Linked DNA regions of Homo sapiens. The protein of the gene in region 4 purifies or fractionates together with the protein of the main gene of each other region. This does not show direct contact. Each region holds a gene or a part of one and is shown on either strand. Other genes may lie near its edges.

Region 1 (3,500 bases), on a different chromosome or scaffold from region 4:
GTACCATGACAACTTGTATATTAGCAGCTTGACAGACAGCTTCGAATTTTCACAGACTACTACATGAACTGTTATGGCAACGGAAACTTTTACAAATAGTAGCATGTTAAAAGACCTGTCCACCTAACAGTACACTACCCACCGCTCCCATCAGAGACATGACACGGTTTGTTTACATGATCCAAATGACCATCTCAATGGTGATTCGCTGTTATCACTCACATCAGCTAACACTACTCTGTGTATTTATATGTGTGTATACATATTTATGAAATGAGAATACCTGGACAGTCTGATTGGTTAACAGCGTATTGGTACAGTTTTGTCTTCTATTACATGTCATTCATTTCAGCCCTCAATTTTAGAACTCTAAATAAATAAAATGTAATTTACAAAGATAAATTGTTATTTACAAATGCAAAAATTCATCCTGAGGATTTTGGTATCTAGGAGAACTGTTTCACAGAAAAAAGCAAGTATCAATCTGTGAAATAAAAATGCACCTTGAGTTAAACTAAATAATTCATAATTACAGGTTAATTTACCCAAGTTCCAGCCAAGAAAAGCATGAAGATATTTAAGAAATCTTAAATTGATTTGCATGCAAGAAATTAATCACATACAACTTTTCAAATCCCAATGTTATTCCCCCTTAAACTTCTTGTTTAATGTTTTAGTCTGACTGTATTTGTAAAGTAGGTGACAGAGAAAAAAATACCTGAGGAAAGCTCAGTAACGTGCTGAGGGTTCTTTTCCTCACTGGAAAGCAGCGGGGCTTCAGGCCACCATGAGAAACAGCCAGTGGGCCTTTGACTTTACCCAAGTTAAGCTCCCCTAATAGGAGTAGTTAGCTAAACAAGTTCAACGCTTTCCAAAGGAAAAAGGTCAAGTTAAAACAAAAATCTAAATAAAGGTAAAATATCAACAGTTTCTCTGCTTTACAATGTGACCATAAAATTACTTATTTACAGAAATTAAAAGAAATGGTTCAACAAAGAATCAAACTGGTTTCTCCAGGTATATACCATGACAATGTATCTTTTTACTCGATGCTGTGAGCAGACAGTGATTATTTTGGAGAAGGAAAAATAAGGTGTGGAATTAGTAATGCAGATGCTGAAAGGCAAGTGGCAAGAGAAGAATGCCTCAAACAAAGGCTACTTTGTTCCCATCTCTACTGCACCTACACCCACACCCGCCCCGGCCCCCAAGCTAAAAGACCAGAATAACCAAAGCCATTTTAACAGTAGTGTGCAAAACTGTCAGCTGACAAACAACATAAAAACAAGTCACACTATGTTATCTGTGGTCACGTTCTTCAGGGTTAGTCCAGTAACTCAAGACTTTACATTCTTTTGTCTTTATTTGTTTATTTTAATTAAACATATAAAGGTTAATAAACAGACAAAGTCCAGAGTTAGTAGGTTGGTATTATAACATTTATTAAAATAATGCTGTGGGTTAATAGAAACAGCAAAGAACCAAAGAATTAAAATGCAAGCTATGTAAAATCCCAACTAAAACCCAAAAGTGTCTAATGTATTCATTCATTAGCTAACTAAAAGCCCAAAAAAGACAAGACACCCAATATAATAAAGTACTGCAAAACAATTGGCAATTTTCAGTTATCAAAATTGTGGATTTTGCATTTTGTATCCTTTTCTCAATCAAGAAAAAAATTCTTTTTGAATGTTATATAACATACATATAAAACAAGATAGAAAAATACATTATAAACTTGTAACAATGGCTGTAAATACATTATCTTACATGTTTCTCATAGGCAATAGGTTGGTTATGGTACATACATAGCATGAAACTAAGATAATAAAGAATAGACAAAAATACATGTCAGCTGTACGATAACATACAAGCGACACTCCCATCTACCCACGCTAAAAAATTACATAATACTGTCAGAAAAAAAGTCTTAAAAACTACATATTTTAATAAGAAATAAATTCAATAAAGAATGATAATACTGAGAACCAAGGCATTCAGAGATTTCAAAAGTCATGCTTTTTTCAGTTGATCCAAAATTTTGTCAACCAAGTTTTCAAAAGTTTGTTCAGAGCCAACATTCCCTATAAATGTCACACATTTATTATTTCATACATTTACTTTCTTCCCCATAAAAGACCTTTGATAAACATCTAAAATGTCCAGGTATAACATAGTTGAGATGAAACTGGATCAAATACTGGTATTGTTTTTAACAACTATCACCTCAAGTGTTTGAGTGTCGCAAATTTATTCAACCAACCAAACAATATAAAAATCAAAATGGCACAGCATATATTGTAAATAAATCAAAACTGTATGTGTAACAGAAAGACAAAGCAGTGGCATATTAAACCAAAGCTAGCTGGATACAAAACAATGAATGTCTATTGCATAGTAAATAAACTGACAACGGTTTCCAAGTGAGACAAGATGGTGGGGGAGGTCACCAAGAAGGTAATGACTCAGCTTCCTGCTGACCTCTGACTGTGATGCTGGGAAGGTGTGGAAGAGGGGACGAGTTGATAAGCTGGGCGGGGGGGGGGGTCCACTGTCACTTGAGATTTGCCACGTCTGGTACTGAGCAGTTAATGATTATTCACTCAAGTGTTTAGATGTAGGCTTTGCACACAAATTGCTTCAACTACATAACTAACTGTTTCAACTTCTTGAGAAATTAGAAGCTTAAGCTGAAATGTGGTTGAGTATTTATATGCACTATGATGCTAGTTTTTCACATTCTTTTAAAGTTAAGGGGTGGGGGAGGCAGAGGTTATTGAAACAGTAAAAGGATACACTACACCAGTTATCTGGTATGATATAAAGACATGTGATTAAATTTGGGTGATTTAAAACATTGTTTTCTAGAATGAAAATCACAAAGATTCACTTTTGTGAAAACATTTGCTAGGTATCCTATTATATTCAATTAATTAAAAACAAAAAACAAAATCAAATGAATGCATCCCCCTTCTCCAAATAAAACAAAGCTCTAATTTTGTCTGTAAACTGAAGTTTAGATGACACATAATTTTTATCTCAGAATCCTTTGGGTTAACATTGAAGATTGGAATAACCAAAAGTATTAAACTATTCTTTTAAAGAATGATGTTTTAAAACTTACTAGTCAGGCATTAGAAAAGTTATCAAATCTTTTCACAGTATCAGATTTGGCAAATTTGCATCAAGGTAACGTGGCAAAAATCCTATAATTCAAACTATCAACTCATTTGTCTCCCTCATATCTTCTTTCACATACTGGGCGACTGAGTAACATGCATTAACTTGTATTCTGAGGGAGGAGCTGATCTTTATGAGACACTTGACTGAATGACCATGAAGGAAAATAAGGCACTTTCTTTTCTTTAGACTTATTCCAATACTTAAAAAATAAAAAAGAAAGACAAAAAGGCTCTTTTGGTCTTTTGTTTCTTGACAACCACCAGAAAAAATCATTTAATGAAATAAAGGGTTTCTTTGTTCTTTTTCTTTTTTTTTAT
Region 2 (3,500 bases), on a different chromosome or scaffold from region 4:
CCATTAAAAGTAATAGCACTAACCGCAATTACATTTGCACCAAGCTAATACTTTTTCCTTCTTTTTCAATAAGGAGCCTTGCATTTTCATTTTACACTGAGGCTCTGCAAATTATGTAGCCAGTCCTGCCCCTAGGACCTGCTTCAGGTCCTAGGGGAGGGGAAAGTTAGCCTTACTCCAAGCCTCAGAAATGTCTTTCCCAGAGTCTAGCTGTCCTCACTTGGGGACAGGCACCCACAAGAAGAAAGTACCTACACAGGGTGGCTCCACACAACCCCAAAGCTAAAACTGAGAAACCTGAAGCTAGAAAGGGTCTTGTGCAATCAGCTGGTTCCTGCCAGCACCCTTGTGCCAAGTCACAGATGATGCCAAGGGCCCAGCAGCCAGGGAAGGAAGACAGCCTAGTCCAGTAGCCAACAGGTATCCCAGTCCCAGATGCAGAGCAATAAGGATATGAAATGAAGACGCAGAGGAGGCCGTTTGAGCCTCCACCAGCCAGCTTCCTGCTTTGAGCATTGTTCTCAACAGCAAGCGACTGTATCCAAGAAGCCTGGGTCTAGGCACCAGCCTTGACAGGCCTGTTCCTGGCTGTTGAGCTTCTCTCACCTTGCTTATTCTCCTCCACCCCAATCTCCTTCCCAGTAAGGAGTTTTCCAAGACCTGGAATACCTAGAAAACTCATTGGGTCTCTTTAAAACACTGATTCCTCAAGAGATGCCAAGTGCCTACTCAGCTCCCAGCCCTGGGCTGGGTGCCTAAGTCACAGAAGTGGGGAATAAGATGCCTGCCTTCAAGGAACAGCCTTGGCACAGGCAAGGTGGCTGAGCCCCTCTTCTCTGCCATCTCCTCATTGCCTCATGACCTATTTAATGCCTGCTGTAGGGGGAACGGAATTCACAAGGTTCCATGAAACCCCTGAAGAGCAGCCCAGTGTAATACTCTAACTCCCATGGCCTCTTCTAGAAACTTCTCCCTCATAGGTCCCATGTTTGAAAAAGCTGTGTCTGCCAAATTGTATTTACTAATAATCAATGTCTTCAATTTCTTACTAATCAGAGACATGTACCACCCCTAATCAACATAGGAGACCAGGGGGTACTGCCCTTCCAAAGTACCTCAATCCCCAGAAAAAGCAAAGATGGAGTCTGGCCCCATAAGCCTTGGGGAAGCCTAACTCAGAGCAATGGCATATGGGCATTCATCTCCTTCAAGATGCATGGCCTGGGGTAGGAGCTACCACTACTACTGTGGCTATCACATGAGGGACCAAAGACCTATGTTCCAGTCCCAGCTCTAACACTTCAGCAAAATCATTGAACCTTCATGGACCTGAGTTTCATCATCTGAAGAATGGGGATGATTCTTCCCCTCCTGCCTCCAGGGGCTGCTATAAGGATCAAATAAGAAAAGACACAAGAAAAAAAACCATCTGCTATAGGAATGTCCAGGATTACGGCAAGATTCTATGTCTGTAAAACGAAACTAGTAGTAGTTCCTACCTCATCAAACTATTGTGAGAATTAAATCAATGACAGTTACAGAACAGTTCCTAGCATTTTTCAAAGACCCAAAAAGATTAGGCTGTTATATAATTATTACTACTATTATTGCTACTTCTGTTAATGACACTATTATCACAATTACTATTATACCTTGCTACCCAGCTAAGGGATTCATAGTAGAGAAGTGCTAGAGTACAAAAAGTCTTCGTTTTATTTATTTATTTATTTATTTATTTACAGACAGGGTCTCACTCTGTCATCCAGGCTGGAGTACAGTATCACAATCATAGCTCATGGTAAACTCAGACTCCTGGGCTCAAGCAATCCTCACACTTAAGCCTCTCAAGTTGCTAGGATTACAGGAGCATACCACCATTAATTTTTTCATTTTTTGTACAGATGAGGCCTCTCCGTGTTGCCCAGGCTGATCTTGAACTCCTGGCCTCAAGTGATCCCCTCGCCTCCGCCTCCCAAAGTGTGGAATTGCAGGCATGAGCCACTATACCCAGCCAAAAAATCTTTTTAAAGGGGTTATCAACATCACTTAGTCTAGAACTGGGAGAACCAACAGTAGATTTCTTATACATTTTGTCCCTCATTAATGCAAAATTGAACAAAAAGTGCAGAAATCAAAACAAAAATTCACCTGCCTAACCTCAAGCTTTTCTGCTTCAAGAAATGGACTCCGAGGCCAGGCACAGTGGCTCATGCCTGTAATCCGAGCACTTTGGGAGGCTGAGGCAGGCGGATCACTTCAGGTCAGGAGTTTGAGACCAGCCTGGCCAACATGGTGAAACCCTGTCTCTACTAAAAATGCAAAAATTAGCCAGTCATGGTTGTGCACACCTGTAGTCCCAGCTACTTAGGGGGTGGCCGAGGCATGAGAATCACTTGAACCCAAGAGGCAGAGGTTGCAGTGAGCTGAGATCGTGCCACTGCACTCCAGCCTGGGCGACAGAGCAAAGCTGTCTTTAAAAAAAAAAAGAAAGAAAAAGAAAAGAAAGAAAAGAAATGGACTCTGGAGAGTATTAAAACATTTGCTGGCCAGGCATGGTGGCCTGCATTTGTAGTTCCAGCTACTTGGGAGGCTGAAGTGAGAGGATCACTTGGCCCCAGGAGTTCAAGGCTGCAGTGAGCTATGATTGCACCACTGCACTCCAGACTAGGAGACAGAGGAAGATTCTGTTTCTTAAAATTTTTTCAAAAATTAAAATGTTTTAATCTGCTAAATATGAGGAGCAACTGAATACATCCTGTAAAACCTCACACAACTTTCCTGTGCAAGGAGCCATTAGGAAAAATAAAATCAGCCATGTCAATGCTTTGTCGCTCTCACTTTATGAGCCAGATTAGAGGAGGCTCCTGCCCTCAACACAAAAATCAAACATTCAGAAATGCTCACGGCAAAGCTAAGAAATCAGACAACAGTAAAACATTTTTCATGTGGGGGGCGGGGGATGAGGGAGAGAACAATTACTCCCAAAACCCTTAAGTCTCTCAAAAAATTGTCACAGAAGGACGTCAGAAGTACAATCACCTGCCACAGGGCCCTGCCTTTGAGGGTAGGGAACACTGTCACACATTGCTTTTTCTAGGCCTGGGAGGAGTCAGCCAAGGCCCTGGGGGCACAGGAGCTCACTGTAGGAAAATCATTAGGGACCTCACAGACAAGTTACCATGGAAGAGTCAGCAAAGGTGTGGAAGGCTGTGCTCCAGCCTCCAGAGTCCCACACGCGGCCTCACACACCCAGCCCAAGGCTGCACCTGGTACTTTGGGACACTTGCAGCCCTTCCTCCCGCCAAATGAATGATGGGCCCTGCCCCTGGGTGACGCTAGTGAGATGCAGGCCATGGATCCCATCCCTCTCACCTTCTTAGAAACACTGCTCCAGCAACTGCCCCGTCTCTTTACTGCAGCATCGACTTCTTCCTCTCAGTGGGATCATTCCCATCAAAACAAACATGCTGTACAATCTCCCACCAAAAAAAAGAACCCTC
Region 3 (3,500 bases), on a different chromosome or scaffold from region 4:
ATCAAACTATATAATAACCCCACAATCTGCATACACTTACTAGGTAAATTTTCATGTCAATCAAGTGACCTAAGAACATAAAGCATAATGTTTACACTATGTACCCTAAACTTAAACAACTGTGGACTAGTATATTTACTCATTTAAGCAATAATTTACAAAATATTACTTCCTAAGAAGAAACCATAAACATATCTGTACAGGTGGAAATTATTTCTCAAGAGTAAAACTAGTAACACGAGGGAAAATAAAACAACCAGCAACTGGACATATTGTAAGCGTGAGTTAGCAAAATTACACTGACCACAAATCATTGTACAATCTATTATACACATCAACTTCTTCACCACATAAACATGGCTAAGCTATCCTGATCTATCATCAACTTTTAGTCTCCTGTGTTTAATGTGAAACATGGAGCTTTGAAGAAATTCTACTTGCTAGAGTTTAGCCACAAAGTATAAACATTTTATCATACATTGCACCTTTAACCTACTCAAAAACTCAAAAAGGGTTCAGTGACCTTTCACAATAATCCACAAACTATTCCACCAGCAAAACTGCTAGTGTTTACAAGGAAAATGCAACTCCTTTTAACCCCTTTTAGACCAAACCAGTAGCCTCACCTTTTTAATAAAGGGAGATTTGGCACAACTTTATGATCATCTCAAACTGCCACTTATTTTCTGAGGTGCTAGAAAAACTTTTACAGTCAACCTAAAAATTATGTTTATGACTCAGCTTTTGCTTCAAAATACACCGGGATGAACAGTGTTTATTCTAGTTGAAAACGATGGTCTTGAAAGGGTTTAAAAGAGTGACTAGTGAAAAGAATCTGAAAAGATTCTGTTGTACTTACTCCTCGGCCTCGGCCTCTGCCTGTTGATGGTCCTCCAAAAGCATCATAGTTTCTGCTTCCAAACGTACTTTCAGGATAAGCAGGCGTTCCTCTCCCCCGAGAGCCTACAGGTGCAGGCTTCATATGGGGTGAAGAAAAACTGCTGTAGGAAGAGTAATTCTCTCTTCCTCTGTCCTCCATAAACCCAGGCCTCAATTTTGAACGGGAGTAAGGTGCTTCCCAGCTAGACCCGCCCTGGTTTCTACCTCCGAAAGAGTCAAGGCTATTCCGGTAGGAGCTCTCAAATCGACCACCATAACTACCTCCGAAGCGGCTTTGTTCGGGTTCATTAAAACCATAGCCAGATCTGTACAGATCTCGCCCACCCAGAGAAGACCTGGAGTCGTAAGACTCATAAGGTCCAAACCTGGAAAAGTTGCACAGTGAGGGAAAAAACAAAAGTAAGCTTACTAATGTTAGACAATTCAAAAGACAAATTATCAGATGACATTTATCAACTAAAATTCATTTATACCATACTGGTTTGCACAGTTCTACTTTTGTTCACATTTGATTAGGGCTGGGCAGTTCAACGTGAGACCAGATAGAAAGCTATCTGAGTCAGATTATAAATATGAATTGAGTTTAGTAAAACTTAGCTTTAAAATCTGCTTCTTAGCAGCTTTTCTATTTTATGAAGAAGAAAAGATTTGTCTGTCATTATTTAAGCCCAGCCCTAGTCTTGGAAAAGGTCATTTGCTAAAGTTCACAAACTATTCAAACTTTTTTGAATCTATCCCTAATATTAAAAATTACAAAACATTTACAATATTTTGGCTTTCAATAGGGACACAAATTGAAGTCTACTTAGATGTAGGTTATTTGTGACACAGAGAGATCCTTTTGCACTCCCAATAATCTATATCACAAACTGCTTCATTGTGTCTGTAGGAGTCAAAATTTGGGGAATTATCTCTGGTTATAAAAATTTAACAATCTGCCAAACTTCAGCCAAGGTCAATTAATCAATCCTCAATCACTTTTTACTTGTAGACTAGAAAATCTAACAAATCTAGAAGGATAAACAGATAAAACATAAAAGATCACCAACATATACCCTCTGCATATGAATTTTCAAGGCAGATGAGAAAGAATACATCTTATAATATATTCAATTATTTGCAAAATTATTTCCTTCAGGAAATTATCACATAAAACTACCCTAAAAAAGGGAGCACACAGTCTCCTCGAGGTTTTAAGAGAGTTAACAGAAGAAATAAATCATCTTCCTTCTCACAAACCCAAAGCATGGATTACAAAAGTTGCTTGATATCTTACAACACAATTTTATAAAGGCCCACAATTACACATGAGATAAAACAATAACATCTACGGATATAGCTTATGCACATTACATTCACAATATAAAAGGGCAATAACTGACATATTAAAACATTAAGTGTTACATTACTTCAATTATTTACAGATCACTAAATAGATTTACTTCTGAATCCTAGTAACCATATAAAAATTATTCCTATTTCCAACTACATTTTTCAAAACATCTATCACATAAGCAAAATAGTTGCAACTGTTCACTTTCTTAATTTTTCTTTACTATAAACCATAGTGGTACACTGGAAGCAGAAAGAAGGAAAGTAAGCATCATTCAGTCCATCATTAAGGAATCCGGATCCTTCAATTTATGCAGAAGGATGACTGTTTCACATGTCTACTAACTAGTTTTACTTATATTCAGCAGGAACCTTTGTGCCTCAAAAAGTAGACACCCCTTCTCCTGAAATATGGTCAACCTTAAAGCTTGTAGTTGTTTAAGTAGGTTTAAGCTTTATACAGTAGTAACAGGAAAATATAAATACAATCTCGACTAGTCAAAGGTATAGTATTCATGGCTTTAATACAATGCTTCTAGCCTAGAGCACAAGTGCTTTGGTGTAAGTAGTACCTGTCAATAAATAACCTGAACATAATTTTAAAAATATTTTTATTATTGCAATATGCTCTTCCTTTAAAATTAGAATTAAAGGAATATGTCCTGAATGTTTCTTGGAAAGTAAATGTTAGACTGGTTCAGTAAAATCCATTCTAGTTAGACTGCTTTGCTAATTTACATAGCACCCCACATTAGAAAAGATTTTTTTTAATTATTAAGAAAAAGCTTCATAAATAATATTTTCAATAACATTTTTATATCATTTTTCAGGATACTTTGATTGACAAGAAGTTAAAAGTAAAAGAATTTTTTAAAAGTTCACTGCTAAAAAGTGTATCTTACTCTATTATATTGACATGATATAGTTATCTGGTGTTTTCCTAAAATAACGTCTGCCAGTAATACTGATTTAAATTTTATACCCATTAATTAACACCTTTAAATATTTAAGGTGATGATTCAATAGCAAACAGTGAAGTTCAAGTATCATAACATGCCTAAAGAGTACTTAAAATAATATATCCAAAATCTTATAGTTGTCTAATTATTTGGCCAAATGATTAAGCAATTTACCTGCTACCCCCACCACCACCACTGTGATTGTCCATGCCATATGACTGGTTTAGGTAGGAATCCATGGATCTCTGACCCCCATAGGATCCATGGCCATAGTCACGATCCATCCCTATAAGAGTTTAAAAAGAAAAA
Region 4 (3,500 bases):
AGTGATGTCCCAACATCTTCTTTAATGCTGGAGTCCTCATTCCAAACACCTGACCTGCCCCCCTCCCAATATGCAAAGCTAATTAAGAGCAGGGCACCATTTAAAAACCACTCCTCTGTACATTTAAGAAAAATGCCTACTTTGCATTTGGATGACTCAGGTCCCTGAGAACCAGGGCTCCCATGCTGAGGCTGAGCATCTCAGCTCCCAGACCCAAAAACCCTGAGACACAGACATACTTGTCTTTCAATATAAGTTTCCTTTTATTTTGAAATTGAAACAGCAAAATGAAGTGGTTTGTGGCTGAAACAACCTTCACGGGAAAGAAAACTGGAGTGTTCGTTCATCCATCAAAGAACAAACTCCAACGTGTGAGCCAGCTGCCCCACCTCCCCCAAAGCAATGAACAGATTAAAGGATGGGAGGAAGGATACAATCAAAATCGGGTGGTGATGGCTGGCAGATTTCCAGTAAAATACAATTTTCAAAGTTGCCGCAATTACAGAATAAGCTAGCACTCATATTTAAAAAAAAAAAAAAAAAAAAAACTGTCCCAAGCAGTAGGCCTCCAGCTCTTCCCAATTTGCACTCATCAAAATACATCGTTCCCTCTTCTGAGTAAGTGATGTTTCAGAACTGCTTACAAATCCACTTTGCCTCAGGGGAGGAAGCTCTTTTGATTCACTCTGGTTTTGGGGACCAGGATCAAGATCCTGGAGAAAAGGGAGACTCCAAATGGTGATAGAGGACGTTTATTCATTATGGTAACACATAATCTGCTGAAATTCATTTTGAACGTGCTTTTACATAGCAGTGGCTAACATAAAATCTGCACAGAAATGTTACAAGTGGCTCCCCAGCCCCCACAGCCGGGAAGTGCCAGTCAAGATTTAAGCATCCCCAAAACAAAGCCTTTATTCCTGGGGGAGCTTATTGGCAGGGGAGGGGGGACAGGGGTGACTGAAGTCAGCTGGCTGGGAGGGGAGAAGGGAGAGAAGCACAGGAAGGACTCACTGGCAGGAATAGGGTGGGGGATGGGGTGAGACAGGCCAGGGGCAGACTGTGAAAGCTGTTACCTGTTGGAATAGCTAGCACGTTATCTTAAACAAGTGAAGAAAATCGCCAAAGAGTGAAACTTATTTATGGGGGAAAAAAAAGCTTGGGAAATTAAAACAATCCAGTGGTCACTGGAAAATGTCTCCCTTTTAAAAAAAAATTTTTTTTTTTGGTTTTTTTTTTTTTAATTTTATTTTTTGGAAAGTATTCTCAAGGTAATATTTTTTTCCTTTGGAAAAAGAAATCTTTTTCCCCCCCTAACCTAAGCAAGTGGAGCTGCCACTACCTAATTTATCTATTGTTTTGCTAAGAGGTAGATAAAACAAAAGTGAAATGGGGCTTCTATGAGGAGGTCCATTAGAGGGTGGGTGGGGAGGGGCTGGGATCGCCCAGTGGAACTCCCCCAACTACAAAGACGGCCTGAATGAGTCCAAGGACCGCGCCCTCAGACTCCCCCAGGGCAAAGGATCCTGCTTCACCTCTTCTCCTTCTAGAGCCAACTGGGCCCCCATTGAAGACTGAAAAAGGGCCCAATGGAGGTGTAGGATCTCAAAGAAACCCTGTTGAAGAGGTCTCAGCTCTGGTTTCCCCAGGCTTCCTGACTTTGGGGCTGTGTGGTGGGTTCCAGGCCAAGCCCCAGGTCTCACTCCAGCCAGCCCCCTCTAGAAGGGAAGAGGCCATTCCTTTCCTCACCATCTGGTCCAACAAAGCTATAGAAAGTGAGAGAGGGACAAGCTGGAGGCCAAAGGGGTGACACATGGGCAAGGAAAGCAGAAAGTGGGGACCTCATGGCCAGCCCTCCCAGCCCAATCGATATGGGGGGGATCCTGGCAGGCCTGCCTGTTCCCCAAGGACAAACCTTTTGTGGCACAAGCCTCAACTCACTTGTCCTGGCTGGGATTCATACCCTTATGCATGAGTCCCTGCCCTTAGTTCCAATCTTACTGTAAGGATTGAGGTAGTTAATCCATTTATACTCGTAGCATCCATCACCTGCGGTTAATCAAAACACATGCTCCCGAGGAGCTTCCTGCTATTTCATTCAAGAAAAAAAATTTTTTTTCTTTTGTCCATCCGGAGTCAACCATACTAAGGCGCCAGCAAAGGCGCCATCAGACTGTGCCCCAAAGCGGTGCACAGGACCGAGGGTCAGGGCTGGGGCTCTCGCCCCTAAATCCCCCTTCAGACATGAGGCCTCCTCCCTGTCCCGTACCCCGATAGAGAAGCCTTATGTATCCAAAGGAAAGAAACTGCAGTTTTCAGCTGGTGTTACTCTAAGTCTGAATACAGAGAAATGTTCTGCATCTAAATTGTCGAGTATTTGGAAGGGAAATGGCTTTTATGTCCCCTGGCATTGATGAGGATTTTTCTTCAATCTTCCTGCAATTACTGTGACAGGCTGTGCTGTTTCCCTTCTACTGGTTTTCAAGAAACAGGCAAACAGTCGAGTGGTTTGAATGGCAAAGCCACTAGGATCTCCCCATAAACACTTCAGGGGAAAGAAAGGAGAACCCCCACCCCTGATGAGAGGTGGGAGGAAGGGGTTGCCTAGAGGCACCAGCTTCTCCTGTGGAGCAAGAAGGCTCAAGCAGGCCCTCTGGGGCTCTGTGAGGTAGTTACTAGCACTGCTGGTTCCCAGTTTGGCAGAGGGTATGTCTGGGTTGGGAGGAGGGGAAGGCACCCTTGAGAGCTAACTGAGGCCCCTCCTCACTGCCCGTCTGCCAGGCCTGAAGGGAACTCGGCAGTGCTATCTCTGCAGTAGGGGCAGGGGACAGAGCAGTCCCACAACAGGGAGCTACCTGGAGCCCCAAACTTCCTCTCCTTCCCCAAAGTGCAACCAGGAGCCGACAGACCAATTTCTCGGCTCCCTACCCCTTGGCTTGGCAAACACCACACCCTAATCCCCCAGGAGCCTCTGAAGGGAAGGGCCTCGCCCTTAGCTCCCAGTTTCCAGGAGGCCTTCCTCCTCAGACAGCCAGGTATGTGTCGAAAGCTGGCTATTGCTTTGATTCAGGAACAGCCTCTCTCAGCCTCTGTCTGTCTGTCTTTGGCACAGAGGAAAATGGACACAGAACCAACTAGAGCATCCCCCTCCAGTGTTCTCTGGGTTTTAAATGGGGTCTTTTCTGCCAATAGTGAGGCATAAACAAGGATAGCTCCCAACTGCCTCCAGAAGGAGGGGGTCAGGAAAAAGGAAAAAAGATTGATAAGGACTGGGAGGAGGGGAGGAAAGTAGAAAAGGGCTATAAAACTCCCTGTCCTTAAAAATGGCTCTCTCCTAACCAGACCCCTCACAGGAGCTGAGTCCACAACCCAAACTGCAAAAGGCAACCAGACCCGAGAGGGGATTAAAGCCATTTGGGGTGTAACTGGCAGATGCAGCTTCAAAGTCAGTCAGTGAATCAAACCATTTTGGTTATGTGTTTCAAAGAATTTAAAAATAT
Region 5 (3,500 bases), on a different chromosome or scaffold from region 4:
CCACATAGTTTCTCAGCCTCCCTCTCCACTCAAACGTCTCGTGCTGCCTCCTCCAACCTCTCTCAACTGAGGTCCTTGCTATTTCACTAAAAAAGGAGAGCATTCAGAGAAAATATCCACAAGCTTCTACACATTTGCCCACCTTCCTCCACCTGTGCCTAAATGCTTGCTGTTCTCTCCTGTGACCACAGATGAACTGTCTCTGCTCCTAGCACTGAAGTCTTTCATAAAAGCACTGCTCCACAAGTTCTCCTTGCTTCTACTACATGATTAACGTTTTCTTTCCTCTCTACTGGATAGTCCCATCAGCAGACAAACATTCTCTGTTCTTAAAGAAAACCCTTCCTGGATTTCACTTCAACTACTTCCCATTTCTTTTCTTCCTTTTAAAGGAAAACTCGAGTGTCAATATATCTGTCCTCAAGTTCTCTTCTTAAATCCACTCTAACTGCTCACATCAGAGTCACCAATGATTTCATACTGCTCAATCCAAAGATCGATTCTCAGTTTTCATCTTACCAGATGTCCCCACAGTATTTGGCACAGCTGATGATTCCCTCTTCTCTGAAACACATTCTCCATAGCACACCCTCCTGGTTTTCCTCTTTCCTTTCTGGCTATTCCATCAGTCTCCCAGTTGCTGGTTTCTTCACATTTTTCTAACCTCTAAACACTGGAGTGCCTCAGGGATCTGTCCTTCGCCCTCTTCTCTGTTCTACCTCACTTTCTTGGTGATCTCAAGTCTCATTCACGGACTGGCTTTAACTCCTATCTAGATGCTGATAACTTCCAAATTAATAGATCCATTTAGGACCTTTCTCAACTGCCTACATGGATCTCCATTTGATGTCTAATAGACATCTCAAACTTAACACTGAGCTCCTGATTCACCCCCTTCCCATAATCTTTGCCATCTCAGCAAATGGCAATTCGTTTTTTTTTTTTTTTTTGAGACAAGGTCTTTCTCTGTTGCCAGGCTGGAGTGCAGTGGCGCAACCATGGCTCACTGCAGCCACAACCTCTGGACTCAAGCAATCCTCCCATCTCTCAGCCTCCCAGTAGCTGAGACTACAGGTGCATGCCACCATGCCCGGCTAATTTTTGTATTTTTTGTAGAGAAAGGGTTTCACCATGTTGCCCAGGCTGGTCTCAAACTCCTGGGCTCAAGTGATCCACCAACCTCAGCCTTCCAAAGTGCTGAGATTACAGGTGTGAACCACTGTGCTCTGCCTCGACTGCATTCTCTTACTCCCTTAGTCATCCTCTCTCTCACACTGCACACCTAGCCTGTCAACAAATCTTATTTGCTCTACCTTCAAATCATCCAGAATCTGACCACTTTTTCTCTTTGCAGTTCTATGACCCTGCTCTAAAACACCATTATCTTTTCCCTAGATTACTGCATTGCTTAATTACGTTCCTGCCTTTGCCATTGTCCATTCAGTTTATTCTCAACACAAGAGCTGGAGTAAGTACTATGTGCTAGATGCTACTGTGGCACTAAAGACACAAAAATGAAGAGATAATGTGTTGAGTAGCTACTATGCCAGGCAAATTACATAATTTTATTTTACAGTCATATAACCCTGTAAGGCAGGAAATATTAATCCCATAGAAGAGTACCCATGCTTGAAGAGGTTATCTAATCTCTAACCCAGAGTCTGGGTTATTCTTGCTTGTAAAAAACCTTGTAAAGTGATTTTAGAAATCCTTCCCCACTCTTCCTTTTACCTAAGCTCTTAGGGTAACAGCACCTGTATTTTTATTCTTTATTTTGATCAACATATTCAATTCAAAATTAATACTGGTAGAAAGTACTGTAGGTGGTTAAAAAAACACTGAAGACTAAAAAACTAAAGATAGGTGATAAAAAACTGAAAACTAAATATCTGTATTTCCAGATATTACAATCTAGTAGAACAAAGCAAGCTGGCTTTAAATAAGATTTGCTTAAAAATGAGTAAATGTAACTTATGCCATAATTTACCTCCAGGTACAAAAATTCAACCCAAATAATTATAATAAACAAAAATGTATTTCACCCTGGGGGGAAAAACTGGCTATATCCTGGTAAGGCTAAAAACATACTCATTAATACAAAACCTACTGTGGAATAAAACTTAGGCTTTCAGGGAAAGCACAGTCAATCTGGAAGAGTAAAGAGAGAAAGGAGAACATCTAGCACCGAAATCTCACTGAGGAGCAGATATAGTCAGGTAAGGGAGGCTGGAGGTAGATTTCTTACAACAGTCATCCTCTCTTATCCTCGAGGAATATGTTCCAAGAACCCCAGTGGATGCCTTGGAGTACTGAAAACTATAGGTTTTTTCAATCTGATAACCAAGATGGCTACTAAGTGACTAAGAGGCGGGTAGCATATACAGCATGGATATGCTGGACAAAGGCAGGATTCTCGTCTGGGCCAGGATGGAGATTTCACCATGCTAGTCAGAATGGTGCACAATTTAAAACTTAAGAATTGTTTACGTATGGAACTTCCCATTTAATCTTTTTGGACCAGGATTGACTATGGGTAAGTGAAAGCAAAACCACGGAGAAGGGTAGACTACTACACTGTCATACAGATGACCAGAATTTGCATCTGGCCTCACAGCTTTACTGATCAACAGAACTGAATAAAGTTCTTCAGAGAACTACCAGAAGTTTGCCAAATCTATTTTTTCTATATCCTGGTTTTAAACAAATTTAATCCACCTTCTTGCCCGGACTCAAAAGCCTGAGCAAATAATAAAACGGCCTTTTACTACCCGAGGTGGGGGATGGGTACCTCTTTTCAAGGGTGTCGTCTATTTTGGGTCATTAGTTACTCAGTGAATTCAGTATATCATTTTTAGAGACTATCAATCTGAGGGAATACTGTTCTCTCCCGACCTTTTTAGAATGTAGGACAGAAAGGGTTGAGGTTAATGTAGGCTGTTTGTTTTCATTTATGAGGTTCTTTTCCCAAGTCATTGGATAAGCTTCTCTTTTTTTAAATACACTGCAAATAAAAGCTTTCACCATCCTGAAAGTTTGGATGGTATTATATAAGCATCGTTGTATATACCAAAGGAAAGGAAACAAGTTGTTTCATAAAGGAGATTTTTGACTTAAATAATTCTTGAATACACACCTCCCAAACTGCTACTTTCCTACATTGAGATGGTTTATTCTTGGTGTCTAGAAAGAATTTGACTTCTTTTGTCCCCTGATTACTTTAGATATATATATTTTTTGAGACGGAGTCTCACTCTGTTGCCCAGGCTGGAGTGCAGTGGCACGATCTCAGCTCACTGCAACCTCTGCCTCCCGGGTTCAAGCGATTCTTCTGCCTCAGCCTAATGAGTAGCTGGGACGACAGGCACCTGCCACCATGCCCAGCTAATTTATGTATTTTTAGTAGAGACAGGGTTTCACCATATTGGCCAGGATGGTCTCGAACTGCTGACCTCATGATCCGCCCACCTCGGCCTCCCAAAGTGCTGGGATTACAGGCGTGA
Region 6 (3,500 bases), on a different chromosome or scaffold from region 4:
CACATGTGTATCTTCCTTTTTTTTTTTTTTTTTTGAGATGGAGTGTCGCTCTGTCGCCCAGGCTGGAGTGCAGTGGCGAGATCTCAGCTCACTGCAACCTCTGCCTCCTGGGTTCAAGCGATTCTCCTGCCTCAGCCTCCTGAGTAGGTGGGATTACGCCCGGCCACATGTATATTTTTTCTGGAACTACCTTATTCAATCATTCAGTAAGTAAACATTGCACGCCAGCAATGGGAGACACAATATTAGGTGTTCAAGAGAGTGCAGATGTATGTACTGTATTATAAATAAACATTTTCAATATGTTTGCTAGGTAAACATCACCTAAAGAATCAGGTAGAGGTGTGTTTTAGTGTTTGTGCTCATTTCTCCCTATAGCACATCACTCCTGTATCTAGGAATTTGACTAAAGCTATTTTCTTCACTTAGAAGTTTTGATTAGAATGTTTTTAATTGCTCGGAATCACCTGTATTTTCCTACTGGTTACATTTTTTCTAATGTTTCTCCTGGGGTTTTCATTGTGTTTTATACCTTTCCTCAGAAACTGTGTTATGCTGCCACCACCAGGCTGTTTTTCATATCTTTTATTAGAGCAATACTAAGAAACAGAAATGCTCATTGCATCTGCTACCTTGAGTTACCTTGAGTGTGTGAGGTTAGAACAGTTAATACTTAAAGAGAAGTTGTAATTTGAATTTAGACCCCTCTTTATTAGAGTGCTTCTATAATGGCAGATAAGTGTTCTGGTAGTTGAAATAATACACAAAAAAACAAGTGTTTAATTTTTAATTTTTCAAAAAACTCTTTTCTTGATTTTTATTTGTATTTATTTGTATTTTTTGAGATAGGGTCTCGCTCTGTCCCCTAGGCTGGAATGCAGTGGCAGTGTCTTGGCTCATTGCAGCCTCCACCTCCCAGGCTCAAGCAATCCTCCTGCTTGAACCTCCCCAGTAGCTGGAATTACAGGCACGTGCCACCACCCCAGGCTAATTTTTTTTTGCATTTTTGATAGAGACAGGGTTTCACCCTGTTGCCTAGGCTGGTCTTGAACTCCTAAGCTCAAGTGTTTCACCCGCCTCGGCCTCCTAAAGTGCTGGGATTACAGGTGTGAGCCACCATGCTTGGCCTTGAAAGTTGTGTTTTGTTTGTTTGTTTGTTTGTTTTCTGAGATGGAGTCTGTGTCGCCCAAGCTGGAGTGCAGTGGCACGATCTCGGCTCACTACAACCTCTGCCTCCTGGGTTCAAGGAATTCTGGTGCCTCAGCCTTCCGAGAAGCTGGGATTACAGGCACGTGCCATCACACTCGGCTAATTATTTGTACGTTTAGTAGAGATGGGGTTTCACCATGTTGCCCAGGCTGGTCTTGAACTCCTGACCTCAGGTGATCCACCCACCTTGGCCTCCCGAAGTCCTGGGATTACAGGCATGAGCCCCCGTACCTGGCCTCAAAAGTTTTTAAAAATGTGGTTAACGTAACTTAAAGATCAGCTGGGCGTGGTGTCTCACCCCTGTAATTCTAGTACTTTGGGAGGCCAAGGCAGGTGGATCACTTGAGGTCAGGAGTTCGAGACCAGCCTGGCCAACATGACGAAACCCGTTCTCTACTAAAAATACAAAAATTAGCTGGGCGTGGTGGCGGGCACCTGTAATCCCAGCCACTCTGGAGGCTGAGGTGGGAGAATCACTTGATCCCAAGAGGCAGAGGCTGCAGTGAGCCAAGATTGCACCACTGCACTCCAGCCTGGGTGACAGAGTGAGATTTCGTCTCAAAAAAAAAAAAAAAGAAAGAAGGAAATCCTTCAGAAATTCTTTATCTGAGTGCTGTGACGTCCATAGTGAAATTTATTACTTGGAAACTACATAGTGGTTGTGAGAGGAAATAAGTAATAAATATTAAATGGTATTAAAAAGATTATGCAACTGGGAAAGAAAAATTAATTTGCTATCGCTACCATGATTCACCATCACATCTAGCTGTCTTCTACAGCCTTTTATTTATTTATTTTTTTTTTGAGACGGAGTCTCAGTGGCGTGATCCTGGTTCACTGCAACCTCTGGGCCCCCCCCAACCCACTGCGAGTTCAAGCAATTCTGCCTCAGCCTCCCAAGTAGCTGGGACTACAGGTGTGTGCCACCATGCCTGGCTAATTGTTTGTTTTTTTTGTATTTTTAGTAGAAACAGGGTTTCACTGTGTTAGCCAGGATGGTCTTGAGCTCCTGACCTCATGATCCACCTGCCTCAGCCTCCCAAAGTGCTGGGATTACAGGTGTGAGCCACCGCACCTGGCCTAATTTTTGTATTTTTGGTAGATAGTGGGTTTCACCATGTTGGCCATGCTGGTTTTGAACACCTGACCTCAGGTGATCCACCTGCCTCTGCCTCCCAAAGTGCTGGGATTGTAGGTGTGAGCCACCGGGCCCACCCTACAGTCTTTTATTCTTTCTTTCTTTCTTTCTTTCTTTCTTTCTTTCTTTCTTTCTTTCTTTCTTTCTTTCTTTTTTTTTTTTTTTTGAGACGGAGTTTCGCTGTTGTTGCCCAGGCTAGAGTGCAGTGATACAATCTTGGCTCGGTGCAATCGCCATCTCCTGGGTTCCAGCGATTTTCCTCTCTCAGCCTCCAGAGTAGCTGGGATTACAGGCTTGTACCATCACACTCGGCTAATTTTTGTATTTTTAGTAGGTACCGCTTTCACCATGTTGGTCAGGCTGGTCTCAAACTCCCAACCTCAGGTAATCCACCCGCCTTGGCCTCCCAAAGTGCTGGGATTACAGGCATGAGCCACCGAACCCGGCTTTCTACCTTTTTCTAACAAGTATATATTATGTGCACAGATAGTTGGAGATAAAAAGGGGAATAAACCAGTCTTTACCCATCAGGAATTTATAATCTAGTTTGATAAATGGTATACTCACTCATTAAAAGTTAAATATCAAAGTAAGAAGTGTCACTGCAGATGAATTGATTAAATGCCTTATCTATTCTATAATTTGTAGAAATTCCTAAAGAGGTTGTTAAGATGCCTAGAGATACTCTGAGGGTGCTGTTTGGTTCTCTTGTACCCTTACAGGGTAACTTGGCAGTTTCTTGTTCTCTATGTTGGGGGCCACTATTAGGTTTCTAAGAGGCACAGCAGTAGGGGGATTCTAGTAAATTTTGTCTTTTACTGCACAGTGTCTCATGGAGACAGAGTCTGCACAGTGGAAGGAACTTCAGAAATAATATATGGCCCAGGTTTTCACCGAAGGCAAACTCAACTTGGGGTGAATCTGGATGATGTTTTTTTTTTTTTTTTTGGTGGTATCATTTAAAAACAAGACATATACTTATATTCATTGGTTTTTGTTTGGAGGAGAAATTCTTTGACGTAGACTATATCTTTTTTTCTTTTTCTTTTTCTTTTTCTTTTTGAGATGGAGTCTCTCTGTTGTCCAGGCTGGAGCGCAGTGGCTCAATGGCACGATCTCGGCTCACTGCAATCCCTGCCTCAGCCTCCCGAGT
Region 7 (3,500 bases), on a different chromosome or scaffold from region 4:
CAGAAAATGTCAGTGTACAAATGATCATGATTCATGTGTTTAAAACAAGATATCACACTCTTCCCAATCAAAAAGTTGAGAGGTTATGAAAAACCAAAAAAAATTCTATAAGTACGACAATGACAAGTGTTTAGGTGGGTATGGTATAGCATTAGTCAGGATTCAATTAACACCCAAGGAAGTAACAACACCACAGCAGAACAAAAAGGATCACCATGTGTCAACTGTTACCCCTTCCTACCCTGCTTCTGAGGTGGCAAGGAGGAAAACCTAAGTGAAGGGCTGCTAAACAGGTGAAAGGTAAAGAAGTAGAGTCAGTATAGACAACTCTTTTGAAGAATTTGGTCTTAAAGAGAAGTACAGAAATGTGGAAATAACTTGACGGAGACATAGGATTAAGGGATGGTTTTTCCCCCAGATGGGTGATGTTACAGCGTATTTTATACCAGTGGATAGATTCAGCAGACAGAAAGAACTTGATGATGCAGAAGAGAAAGGATATAACTACAGAAAAAGGACACAAGTGGAGTGGTTGGTCTTAGAAGTGCAGAAAGGCACAGGTATGGGCAGACTGGTAGATTTGATGACAGAAAGATTAAGAGGTTCTCCTTTAATTGCTTCTGTCTTCTCAATGAAATAAGAACTTAGGGCAGGGTGCGGTGACTCATGCCTGTAATCCCAGCACTTTGGGAGGCCAAGGCAGGTGGATCACCTGAGGTCAGGAGTTCAAGACCAGCCTGGCCAACATGGTGAAACACCGTCTCTACAAAAATATAAAAATTAGCCAGGCATGGTGGTGCACGCCTGTAATCTCAGCTACTCAGGAGGCTGGGGCAGAAGAATCAATTGAACCGGGAGGCGGAGGTTGCAGTGAGCTGAGATTGTGCCATTGCACTCCAGTCTGGGTGACAGAGCGGACTCCGTCTCAAAAAAAAAAAAAAAGAAATAAGAACTTAGGCCATTTGTGGATACTAGAAAAAAATCTTATTTTTTTTACTATGACTATTACATTCATTTACAATATGATGATCAAAAATTCATTTTAACAACTTGAAATTTTTGAAATGTGTGTATAATTATGTACCTGCCTTCAAGACAAGTCACCTCTGCCTGCAGAAGGTCCTCACTAGTATGGGTAAAATTCAACTGGGAGAGCACACTGTCTAAGTCCCCCTGCCCTTGAGAGGTGTACTTCTTTTCTGCCAGAGATTCTTCCCGTGGCCTATGGAAAGACATAGGATGATTGTTAACGCCTTTATCTCTGCAAACAAAAATAATGCTCATCTAGTCTGTGTTTCCCCATCATTTTTGGTAACCTCTTTGGAACTCTTCAAGTTTGTCTCCTGCTTTATAAAAAGAATATTGGGAGAGGAAAGAAAGAGTCAAGAGATGCTGATACTTCAAAAAGTAGCAATTTACTCCCTTCTTAACTGGGATTTGGCCTTTTTTCAAGGGAAAAAGACAAAATGGCAAAATCACTTCAGTGACACTTGAAACCCTGTACCAAAAAAACTGAAAAGTTACAGGAGAATTCTGGCAAAAATAAAAGTGTGCATCAGACTTAAATCAAGCAAGAGGGCTAGCCCAATGGCTGGCTGCTATTAATGATAAGCAGCTACTAATCACAACTTATTCCACCAACAAAGTGAGGCCTCCAGGAGACATGGATGACAATTCCCTGCACATTTGGATTTTCACCAAGCATGCAAACTGACCTTGGTTTCTAACTTTCTAAACATGAGAGTCTCTGTTAGGGACCCTAACTGGTGGCAGAAGAAAATTAACCACACAAAATTTTATAACACTTTAAAAACCTAACTCAGAAGTTAAAGCCAATTAAGAAAATCCACAATATGATCAAACATAAAATTATGAATATGCAATATGAAAACTAGTGCTTGGATGGGCGTGGCAGCTCACACCTGTAATCCCAGCACTTTGGGAGGCTGAGGTGGGCAGATCACCTGAGGTTAGGAATTTAAGACCGGCCTAGCCAACATGATGAATGCCCGTCTCTAAAAATACAAAAAACTAGCCAGGTGTGGTAGCATGCACCTGTAGTCCCAGCTACTTGGGAGGCTGAGCCTGGAGAATGGCTTGAACCTCGGAGGTTGAGGTTGCAGTGAGCTGAGATTGCACCACTGCACTCCAGTCTGGGCAACAGGAGACTATCTGAAAATAAAATAAAAATAAAAATAAAAATAAGCCTAGTGCTTAATACCTAGTCATTAAGTGGCTAAGATGAATAATATTTAAGATTAAATTTACCTTATAGCTTCTACAGCATGTTGAGTGTTAGTTGCCTTTACTTTTTCTTGTAACTTCTCCTTTTGTATTCTGGCCTCATGTATGAGATTTTCTTGAGACTGAAGAGCTGCCTTCAATTCTCTCTTTTCTTCCTGCAGAGCCTGCAAAAAAGTCAAATATGATTATAATTTTCCTTCTTTTTAATTCCTGCAGAACCTGCAAAATACTCAGAAATTTCTAAGCCAGCTATTATTACAATTTTTCTATTTCACGAGAAGCCAGGAAGTCAGACTATAAGTTACGTAACAATATTACAATATTGTAAATATTGTAATAAAGTCACAATATTAGTAAAACTATCAATATCTGATCCATCATTTATAAAGTAGGGAAGAAAGTATGGATTGTAGAACCTAGTTCTAGCTTAATAACACTCTCTTAAAATACTCATACACACACTTCCCCCAATTATAGTGATTTTAAAACATACCTCTAATAGTTTTTCAGATTCCCTCAATTTTTCTTCTTTTTGCTGCTGCTCCTGTAGGACAGTCATACTGGTTCCAACCAAGTCATTGACCCTCATGGTGAGGCGCTCTATTTCCAACTCATTGGCACAGATAGTGTCATTAGCCCGCTCCAGTTTACTGCTTAAGTGTTGAATTTCTGATTGGCTAGAAAGTTCCACAGACTCTAATTTCTGTTTCCGATTGACAAGCTGAGCCTAGAAACACAGACTATCAATCAATAGGTAAAAGGGAAATGATAAAATAATCAATGAATAAGACTAAAATGAAACTATTATTTCCATAAAAACATAAAGCATTGGCTCACTAAAATATATATATATATATTGCGAAGGGGTAAGAAAGAATTGAGAGGCTGGGAGTGGTGGCTCACGCCTGTAATCCTAACACTATGGGAGGCTGAGGCAGGCAGATCGCTTGAGCTCAGGAGTTCGAGATCAGCCTGGAAACATGGCGAAACCCTGTCTTTATAAAAAATACAAAAATTGGCCGGGTGCAGTGGATCACGCCTGTAATCCCGCACTTTGAGAGGCTGAGGTGGGCGGATCATGAGGTCAGGAGATTGAGACCATCCTTGCCAACATGGTGAAACCCGTCTCTACTAAAAATACAAAAATTAGCTGGGCGTGGTGGCGCGTGCCTGTAATCCCAGCTACTCGGGATCGGGAGGCTGAGGCAGGAGAATCACTTGAACCAGGGAGTTGGAGGTTGCAGTGAGCCGAGATT

What was found.
Region 1: the proteins of IGF2BP1 (region 4) and QKI purify together in Homo sapiens (co-immunoprecipitation; 2 studies listed by BioGRID and IntAct, with this or other methods). This does not show direct contact.
Region 2: the proteins of IGF2BP1 (region 4) and PLEKHA7 purify together in Homo sapiens (co-immunoprecipitation; one large-scale study listed by IntAct). This does not show direct contact.
Region 3: the proteins of IGF2BP1 (region 4) and ZNF326 purify together in Homo sapiens (affinity purification with mass spectrometry; one large-scale study listed by BioGRID and IntAct). This does not show direct contact.
Region 5: the proteins of IGF2BP1 (region 4) and TDRKH purify together in Homo sapiens (co-immunoprecipitation; one large-scale study listed by IntAct). This does not show direct contact.
Region 6: the proteins of IGF2BP1 (region 4) and MKRN1 purify together in Homo sapiens (affinity purification with western blotting; 2 studies listed by BioGRID, with this or other methods). This does not show direct contact.
Region 7: the proteins of IGF2BP1 (region 4) and CEP63 purify together in Homo sapiens (co-immunoprecipitation; one large-scale study listed by IntAct). This does not show direct contact.

The regions. Positions count from the first base shown.
Region 1 is NC_000006.12:163,571,718-163,575,217, reverse strand, and holds part of QKI (KH domain-containing RNA-binding protein QKI), read right to left. Parts: 3' UTR 1-3,500. UniProt on the Homo sapiens protein: RNA reader protein, which recognizes and binds specific RNAs, thereby regulating RNA metabolic processes, such as pre-mRNA splicing, circular RNA (circRNA) formation, mRNA export, mRNA stability and/or translation.
Region 2 is NC_000011.10:17,007,915-17,011,414, forward strand, and holds part of PLEKHA7 (pleckstrin homology domain-containing family A member 7), read right to left. Parts: intron 1-3,500. UniProt on the Homo sapiens protein: Required for zonula adherens biogenesis and maintenance. Acts via its interaction with CAMSAP3, which anchors microtubules at their minus-ends to zonula adherens, leading to the recruitment of KIFC3 kinesin to the junctional site.
Region 3 is NC_000001.11:90,005,110-90,008,609, reverse strand, and holds part of ZNF326 (DBIRD complex subunit ZNF326), read right to left. Parts: intron 3,478-3,500; coding exon 3,366-3,477; coding exon of another isoform or gene 3,362-3,365; exon of another isoform or gene 2,165-3,361; intron 1,266-2,164; coding exon 860-1,265; intron 1-859. UniProt on the Homo sapiens protein: Core component of the DBIRD complex, a multiprotein complex that acts at the interface between core mRNP particles and RNA polymerase II (RNAPII) and integrates transcript elongation with the regulation of alternative splicing: the DBIRD complex affects local transcript elongation rates and alternative splicing of a large set of exons embedded in (A + T)-rich DNA regions.
Region 4 is NC_000017.11:49,052,885-49,056,384, reverse strand, and holds the end of IGF2BP1 (insulin-like growth factor 2 mRNA-binding protein 1), read right to left. Parts: 3' UTR 240-3,500; downstream 1-239. UniProt on the Homo sapiens protein: RNA-binding factor that recruits target transcripts to cytoplasmic protein-RNA complexes (mRNPs). This transcript 'caging' into mRNPs allows mRNA transport and transient storage.
Region 5 is NC_000001.11:151,784,001-151,787,500, forward strand, and holds part of TDRKH (tudor and KH domain-containing protein), read right to left. Parts: intron 1-3,500. UniProt on the Homo sapiens protein: Participates in the primary piRNA biogenesis pathway and is required during spermatogenesis to repress transposable elements and prevent their mobilization, which is essential for the germline integrity.
Region 6 is NC_000007.14:140,473,006-140,476,505, reverse strand, and holds part of MKRN1 (E3 ubiquitin-protein ligase makorin-1), read left to right. Parts: intron 1-2,016; exon of another isoform or gene 2,017-2,125; intron 2,126-2,678; exon of another isoform or gene 2,679-2,731; intron 2,732-3,500. UniProt on the Homo sapiens protein: E3 ubiquitin ligase catalyzing the covalent attachment of ubiquitin moieties onto substrate proteins. These substrates include FILIP1, p53/TP53, CDKN1A and TERT.
Region 7 is NC_000003.12:134,545,057-134,548,556, reverse strand, and holds part of CEP63 (centrosomal protein of 63 kDa), read right to left. Parts: intron 2,972-3,500; coding exon 2,738-2,971; intron 2,409-2,737; coding exon 2,269-2,408; intron 1,223-2,268; coding exon 1,085-1,222; intron 1-1,084. UniProt on the Homo sapiens protein: Required for normal spindle assembly.